2 linked regions of the Homo sapiens genome follow. The protein of the gene in region 1 interacts with the protein of each later gene in a pairwise test. Each region holds a gene or a part of one and is shown on either strand. Other genes may lie near its edges.

Region 1 (4,031 bases):
CTGTTAGGAGGTCAGGCATCATTTTATCCTCATTTGACATGTGGAATCCTTCAAAGTCACCACCTTGTTCGTCATCATCACTGAACATAGCACAGGCCAGAGGTTGTGTCAGGCTTGCATAGCTGTGTTCTCAGTCACTGTGTTCCATGCATTGGCAACAGCATGTGTGGCATCCTTCACGCTAAACGCCTGTTGAAAATCTTCCATACCCATTCATTTGTTGCTAGCATGTTGTTCAAGAAGGTACTTTTATATTTATCCTTCATTGATCTAAGAATACCTTGGCCACATGGCTGAATTAATGGAGTCACATTTGGGGAAAAGTACATGGCATAAACATGATTTTTGATGAGATGTCAGCTGGAGGATGAACAGAAAAGTTGTCAAGGTATAACAAAATATTTCAGTCATCATCCAGCCCAGCTTCCCTGCAGTGAGCACAAGCCACAGGTCCAAAATGTTTGTGAGACCAATCAGAAAAGATATCCCTAGTTAAACATGCCTTTTTGTTAGCATAATAATGGTCTGGTAAGAAATTCGCTGCTTGAAAACAGCAAGGACACAAACTTTTGCCTGTCATGCAAGTTTACGCTTATGCATGCCTGCTGCATTAGCACATCCCAGCAAAGTTGTTCTGCCCTTGATGTCCTCAGTTCCTGGAGGGGCTGTCTCATTAGCTGTAGTTGTGTCTTTCTGGAGCAATAAAACCAAAACAGTGATGTTCCATCAGCATTATAGACTTGTTCTGGCATCAGATTTTTGTCAGCAATGACCTTGGCAAACTCACCAATGAATTTCTTTGCTGCTTCATGATGCTTTGTCACCACATTAAAAAATTTGGTTTCATGTTTTTTCTTAAATTTCTGCAGCCAACATGTTGAATATTCATAGTTCCTTTTCATTTTCAGTTCCTCATCCTGATAGATCCTTGCTTGTTTCCTGACCCACATAGCATTAAGTGGCAGGTGTTCACTGCAACACCAAGGGATCCATCCTCGGTACATGATCAGGATCTTCATTTTTAGCTTTATGCAGTGTTTCTCTATTTTTCATTAATTTCTGTTTATCACTTTTAGCACAGAACTTCAACAGTTTATCCTTCTGTTTCTTCAGATCCTATATGGTGGTCACTCCAACACCATACTCTCCTGTAAGACGTTTCACACTTACACTGCTCTCCACTTTCTCCAACAGCTTGACTTTCTGTGCTATAGATAAACATAAATCTTTTTCTTATCACTGTTACCCAGAGGGTATCTGCACACCTTTTAGATATTTTAACAACATTTTTATAACACAGAGCAGAAAGTAAGCAAAAAAGCACAGTGAGTGACGCACGTGGGTTTTGGCCCCATGCAGGTCATTGTGGGGAACCTGCCCACTGGCATGTGCTTGCGTGGGGGAGTCGGGGCATGTGCAGAAAAGGCATGTCACAGCTGAAGGAGGGTGAGAGGGTCTCTTTTCCCTTGGAGACACTGAATAAACTACATGTTGTGGCCTGCATTTTGACTGCAGCCCATCACATGAGGTCAGGTGTGGAACTTGCCATTTGTACTGCCATGTTGGTACTCAAAAAGTTTCAAATTCTGGAGCATTTTCGATTTTGAATTTTCAGATTAGGAATGCTTAACGTGTGTTTTGCTTACCTGACTGCACGTCTGCGCAGGCCTCAATTTCGTCTTTCTGTAATTTGAGCACAGGAGTTGATGCTTCACATGCCGAGTAAGCTTTCCCAGGAGAGACCGTAATGAGATGTGTGGGGACTGGGCGTGCTGGGCTTCTCTGAGCAGAGGAATAGTGAGAGCCACAGCAGTAATTGTTAGTGTCCACCAAAGAGCCCTACAGACAACTGTTCTCTGTGCTGCTAGTTTTTGCTCCAGTTCTTACTGTCTATATGGTGAACCTCTGAAACTACATAAAGAAAGGACAGCAGGGGCCACTTGGCTAACTTGCACGGCTGTGAGCACTGCACTGCACCCCTCCACTGGGGAGTATTGGGTAAGCACCCATCGGAACACCTATCCCCTGACCCTTCTCGTCCTTGCTGGCTGGTTGTCATCGCATACCCAAGCCCAAGCATGCAGTTTCAGTTTGCCATGGATGTTTAGTTTTGGACACTATGGGAAACCTTCAGGTGCCCTTTCTTAGTGTAATTGTTTATTCTTTTTAAAGAACTGTGCTAACATTATTGCTACTTAGCAATAGTTTTTAATCTGGTGAAAATAACAGGTCAGTGGGCAGTGAAAGTTCTCCTGTCACACTTGTCTTCTCACCCATAAAAATCACTTAAAGCTCTGAAGCCAGCTTTGGCTAAAGGGGCATGATCTGCCCCGCAGAGGATGAAGAGCGAGCCCGCTGCAAGCTGTGACAGCAGACGCTCTCTTCTGCCAAGACCTGTGAAAAGCCAGTCTTAGTTGTCAAAACCAGCACCGCGGCACATGTCGTTCATGTCTGAGAGAATGAACTCAGAAGGAAGTCTCGTGTACATAGAAAGCTTTCGTTCTTACTCTAGGATGTCACCTACGTGACTTACAACCCAGCCCAGCCATCCCAGACCTAAGGGGTTCTTCCCTCTCCAGGGCAGGGCCTGCATGCAGTCCATGCTGCTGCCCTGTGTTGGTGACCTGTGTGTAGCCAGCCCATTATCAGCATCCTGTGGATTCCAAACCAAATGTATCATCAGTGGAGGGAGAGCTCAAGTGCCAGGTGGAGCTGTGGCCTAAAGTCACACTTCATCACTCCAGATTATGAATCGTCATTTGCCAGATCTCCAAATTGCTGAGTGTGGACAGCAAATGGATTCGTTTGTGCTGGCTGGGTGCAAAGAAGCAGCCAGTCCTCAGCTGCACTTGAAGTACTACAGGTAGTAGTAAAGGTAGCTTTTCCAAGCCGTTTAAATAAACGTCATTAAGAGTGGCCAAGTTGTTTGGGGGCCATGGCATCATGGTGGTGGATAGTAGGTGGAAGGAAGGCAGGCCAGCTCCCGTTTGGCCTGAGTTATCTCCACCAATGACAATGGTCCTTAACTGGAGGGAACATCATACAGGTTATTTCCACCCAAGATTGGAAAGACCACCTTGATCAGAGAGAGTTTTCCTTCCACATGACACATATCCAGCCTGAGTCCTCCAGCCCCTCTCCCTGCACAACCTGATGGAGGCTTGAGAAAGCACAGGGAGGAACACTTAGCTTGAAAATGTTCCTAAGGAAAAGGAAAGTGTGAATTCTGAGAACCAAGTGGCAGAATTGAAGTTTCACATCTGGCAAAAGCTTAAACAGATTATTATCAAATAGATGGTTTGTGAACGTTGAAAAGACAGCTGTGGTCTAGGACACCAAACCAATCCTGTTGGCAAGAGATCACCAAGACCTTTGACAACATCTCATCAGCTTATGAGAGATGTTGGTGACATGCAGAATGGATAATGATAGTGCAATGAAGTGGGTTTGAAACTGATTAAAAATGTTGATTAACCCCTTGAACACAGAGTTCTGGGCTCTTTGACCTGACGTGTTTGACATTTTCATCAATAATAACTTGAACAAAGTTGTAGAGGTTTACTAATCAAATTTAGGCATGATACAAGTTTGAGGGAGATGATTAACAGTAGATAACAAAATGAGAATTGAAAATAATTCATTTTGGTTGACTGGAAAATGATCAGATGGAATTTAACAGAGATATGTAGAGTCCTAGACTTAAAAGGTCAGGTAGGATTTGAGAGACCTGACTTGACAGCATTTTATGTGAAAATTCCTGAGTGTTTTCAGCAGGCCCAGCTTAACTGGCCACACCAGTGATGCAGCTCCTTACACAAGTGCATGCACAGGCACACACAACACATATGCACACTACTAATGCATTCCTCTGCTCTCATTGAAGCTAAGGGCCCAGACTGTTGGAGGGCAGTGGCCTCACTGCCCTGGTGAGACCACACCCGTGGTGTCACACTCAGTTCTGGGCGCGGTGTTCTGAGACGGTGTGCACAAATGGGAGGGGATGGGCTGAAAGGAACTGGATCCTGAAACAC
Region 2 (3,500 bases), about 24 Mb from region 1:
CAAGAGTCCCCACAATGGTCCTCTAAAATGATTTACCCTCAGTAACTGGCTAGTTGGTCTGCTAATCACCTTTGGCTAGTCGATCTGCTAATTACCTTTTCTCCCTAAGCTTAATAAGATTCTCTTTCCTTTTTCCTCTCTGTGCATCAGTCAGTTTTTACTGCTTCAGGCCCTCCAAACATACTCTGATGACATCTTGTCTTCTGAAACACATACCAAAATTGATCCCACTTCTGGCCCAAGGCTCATAACCCGCAGGAAGAATCTCTCTTATGCACCAGGCTATAGAAGAGATGACCTCGAGATGGCAGCCCTGGATCCTGACTTAGAGAATGATGATTTCTTTGTCAGAAAGACTGGGGCTTTCCATGCAAATCCATATGTTCTCCGAGCTTTTGAAGACTTTAGAAAGTTCTCTGAGCAAGATGATTCTGTAGAGCGAGATATAATTTTACAGTGTAGAGAAGGTGAACTTGTACTTCCGGATTTGGAAAAAGATGATATGATTGTTCGCCGAATTCCAGCACAGAAGAAAGAAGTGCCGCTGTCTGGGGCCCCAGATAGATACCACCCAGTCCCTTTTCCCGAACCCTGGACTCTTCCTCCAGAAATTCAAGCAAAATTTCTCTGTGTACTTGAAAGGACATGCCCATCCAAAGAAAAAAGTAATAGCTGTAGAATATTAGTTCCTTCATATCGGCAGAAGAAAGATGACATGCTGACACGTAAGATTCAGTCCTGGAAACTGGGAACTACCGTGCCTCCCATCAGTTTCACCCCTGGCCCCTGCAGTGAGGCTGACTTGAAGAGATGGGAGGCCATCCGGGAGGCCAGCAGACTTAGGCACAAGAAAAGGCTGATGGTGGAGAGGTCAGAGTGTGTTTCTGCAAGGATTTTGCTTGTAATGGATGGTCTTGTGTAACTTTTCTCATGCGAGAAAGCAGCTCATCGTGTTGCTCAACTCTGCATGTCGCGTGCCATTTTGAAGCATCCCGTAAAATTTAATTTGCTTTGAAAAACCCTCAGTCGTTTTGTACAAAAAGTGCAATTCCATATTTGCATATCTCTAAATAACTTATTTAGGCCTGTTTAAGACTGTATATACATAAACCTTGCCTTTGACTTAAGCAGTACTGTGGTACTATCCACCAATATGAAGTTTCTGGACTTCTCATGTTCAGGCATTTTTGTAACAGTCTGGTTATAGTTTGGTTTTATGTGTTGCTCACATTTTAGAGTGTCTGATTTTTTTGGGGGGGTGAAATTTTCCCTTAAAATATGGCATTGCAAATTTCATTTAACTTAATTTTTGGTTTTGGCCTAGGTTTCTTGGACTATCATTTGTAACTTATTTTTATTTATGAAGTTCAGAGTAAACGTTGATGTTAAAATGCATGAATGGTATTTGTTGTCTGCTGAATTTTATGTGTATGTAATCATGGCCATTTTGATAGTTTGTATTATGCAACTTGCCTTTTTGATGAATGTTCAGTTTGTGGAACTTAGAGATGGACAAATCTGATTAGGTTGAATAAAATTAGAGGATCCAAATCTAACTTAACAGTTCCTGACAATGGGAAGCCTTTTCATATGGATTTGTTAGCTCAGAGTAAATTGAGGAAATTCTTCATTTTGCTTAATCTGAATTTCCTGAGATAGGAAATTGATGAGAACTTGAGACATGATCAAGAATGTGATGGAAGAAGTGACCTTTTGAGATTTGTCCGTCTCCAGTTAGATTCTTAAGTGGAAGACATTGAACGTTTAGAAACTAATATGACTGGGAAAAATGACTTTTTAATTTTTGGTTTTCTGGTTTCTTAGACTCTTTCAAAAGATTTATGGTGAGAATGGGTAAGTTGTGTGGTTCACAGTAAAAAATCTGTGCGTGTTGTTTGTTCTTTGTATAACTTACTGTATTTCTGGCATGGCATGTCACTAAATGGGGTTGTTGTGTGCTGTGCATGATATTTTTTAAGTGGGAAATGTTTATCTTGCAACCTAATGGTAATATTTCTGTGTCTTGGTGCCCAGTGCAAGATAAAATTATTTGTTTTATTAAAAATTTAAACTTCAGCTTCATCCCTTCTTTTTTCCTTTTTAAAAATTTAATGAGTTGATTAAAAGTCACAAAAGCACTTGCCTAAGATTAGGTATATGTATTTTGGTATTTGGTTGCTACATAGACTAAAATTCTGATTTATGGATGCTAAAGCCCAAATTACTACATTTTAGAAAATCTGTGATGGAAAAAGAATATTAGCATTTACTTCAAGTTTAGAATACACCCAGTTGACATTATCCTATAATCGGCCAACTGGGAGCTTCGTTAGTAGGGATGCATTAAACTTCCCTAGGTGGTATTTGGAAGTATTATATTTTCAAGATTCCTGATTAGGAAAAAAAAGTTATAACATGGCTATATTTATAGTGCAAAATAGACCTTCAAAAACTGCAAAAATATTTTTAATTTCTAATATCACTGTTGCAAAAACTACATTTTTTTTTTTTTTTTTTTTTGAGATGGAGTCTCGCTCTGTCGCCCAGGCTGGAGTGAAGTGGCGCAATCTTGGCTCACAGCAACTTCCACCTCCCAGGTTCAAGCAATTCTCCTGTCTCAGCCTCCTGAGTAGCTGGGACTACAGTTGCATGCCACCACACTCTGCTAATTTTTGTATTTTTAGTAGAGACGGGGTTTCACCAGATTGGTCCGGCTGGTCTCAAACTCCTGACCTCAGGTGGTCCATCCACCTCAGCCTCCCAAAGTGCTGGGATTACAGGCAAAAACTACATTTACAGTAAATCATTTATTCATTCTTAGTACAAAATCACAAGGTGGCTATATCTTAATATTTTCCACCAAACTTTCTGTAACTTTGTGAATCTAAGGGCTAATAGTGTTTGAGCAAGAGGAAGAGAGTTAAAGGATGACAGATGTTTTAATCTGCTCAAGCCTCAGTAGCTAAGTATCTTCCCTTATGAGGATTTACTTCATCTATAAGAATCTCTAGTTTTGATAGCTTTTTATAACTTTGATAATTCAGAAATGTTGGAAGCTACTAAATGTAAAGCAGTATAACCATTCTAGATGCCAAAGGTGTAACTGAGCCACAGGCAACAAATTGCAAGTACTTGTTAGCCACTGATTTTAAAAACCAGGGTCCCTGCATGCTTTCCGTGTGCCATGCAAAGGCACATTATCCGCTTTCCAGCTCATCTGCATGATGCTTAAACATTTGCTACTCTCAAGTCATAGGAAAGCTGTTTTAACTTGATTAAAAATCTCTTTGCAGCTTTAAGCATGTTGAATTGTAACTTTCAGAAAAATTTTCATTTGTAAATTAAATATAACTTTATAATGTAAGCAGCTCTCAGAAATAGTTGCTTTTCTTAAAGGAAATAAAAGTACCCAGAGTACAAGTATGTGGTGGAAATGTCAACATGTACAACCATTTCAGTGGCTGGATGTGTTCCCTGTAGTGAGGGGTAAATTATATGAC

What was found.
Region 2: the proteins of UBAC2 (region 1) and LMO7 interact in a two-hybrid assay, tested with the Homo sapiens proteins (one large-scale study listed by IntAct).

Annotation. Positions count from the first base shown.
Region 1 is NC_000013.11:99,378,604-99,382,634, forward strand, and holds part of UBAC2 (ubiquitin-associated domain-containing protein 2 isoform 1 precursor), read left to right. Parts: intron 1-4,031. UniProt on the Homo sapiens protein: Restricts trafficking of FAF2 from the endoplasmic reticulum to lipid droplets.
Region 2 is NC_000013.11:75,807,330-75,810,829, forward strand, and holds part of LMO7 (LIM domain only protein 7), read left to right. Parts: intron 1-150; coding exon 151-870; intron 871-1,824; coding exon 1,825-1,854; intron 1,855-3,500.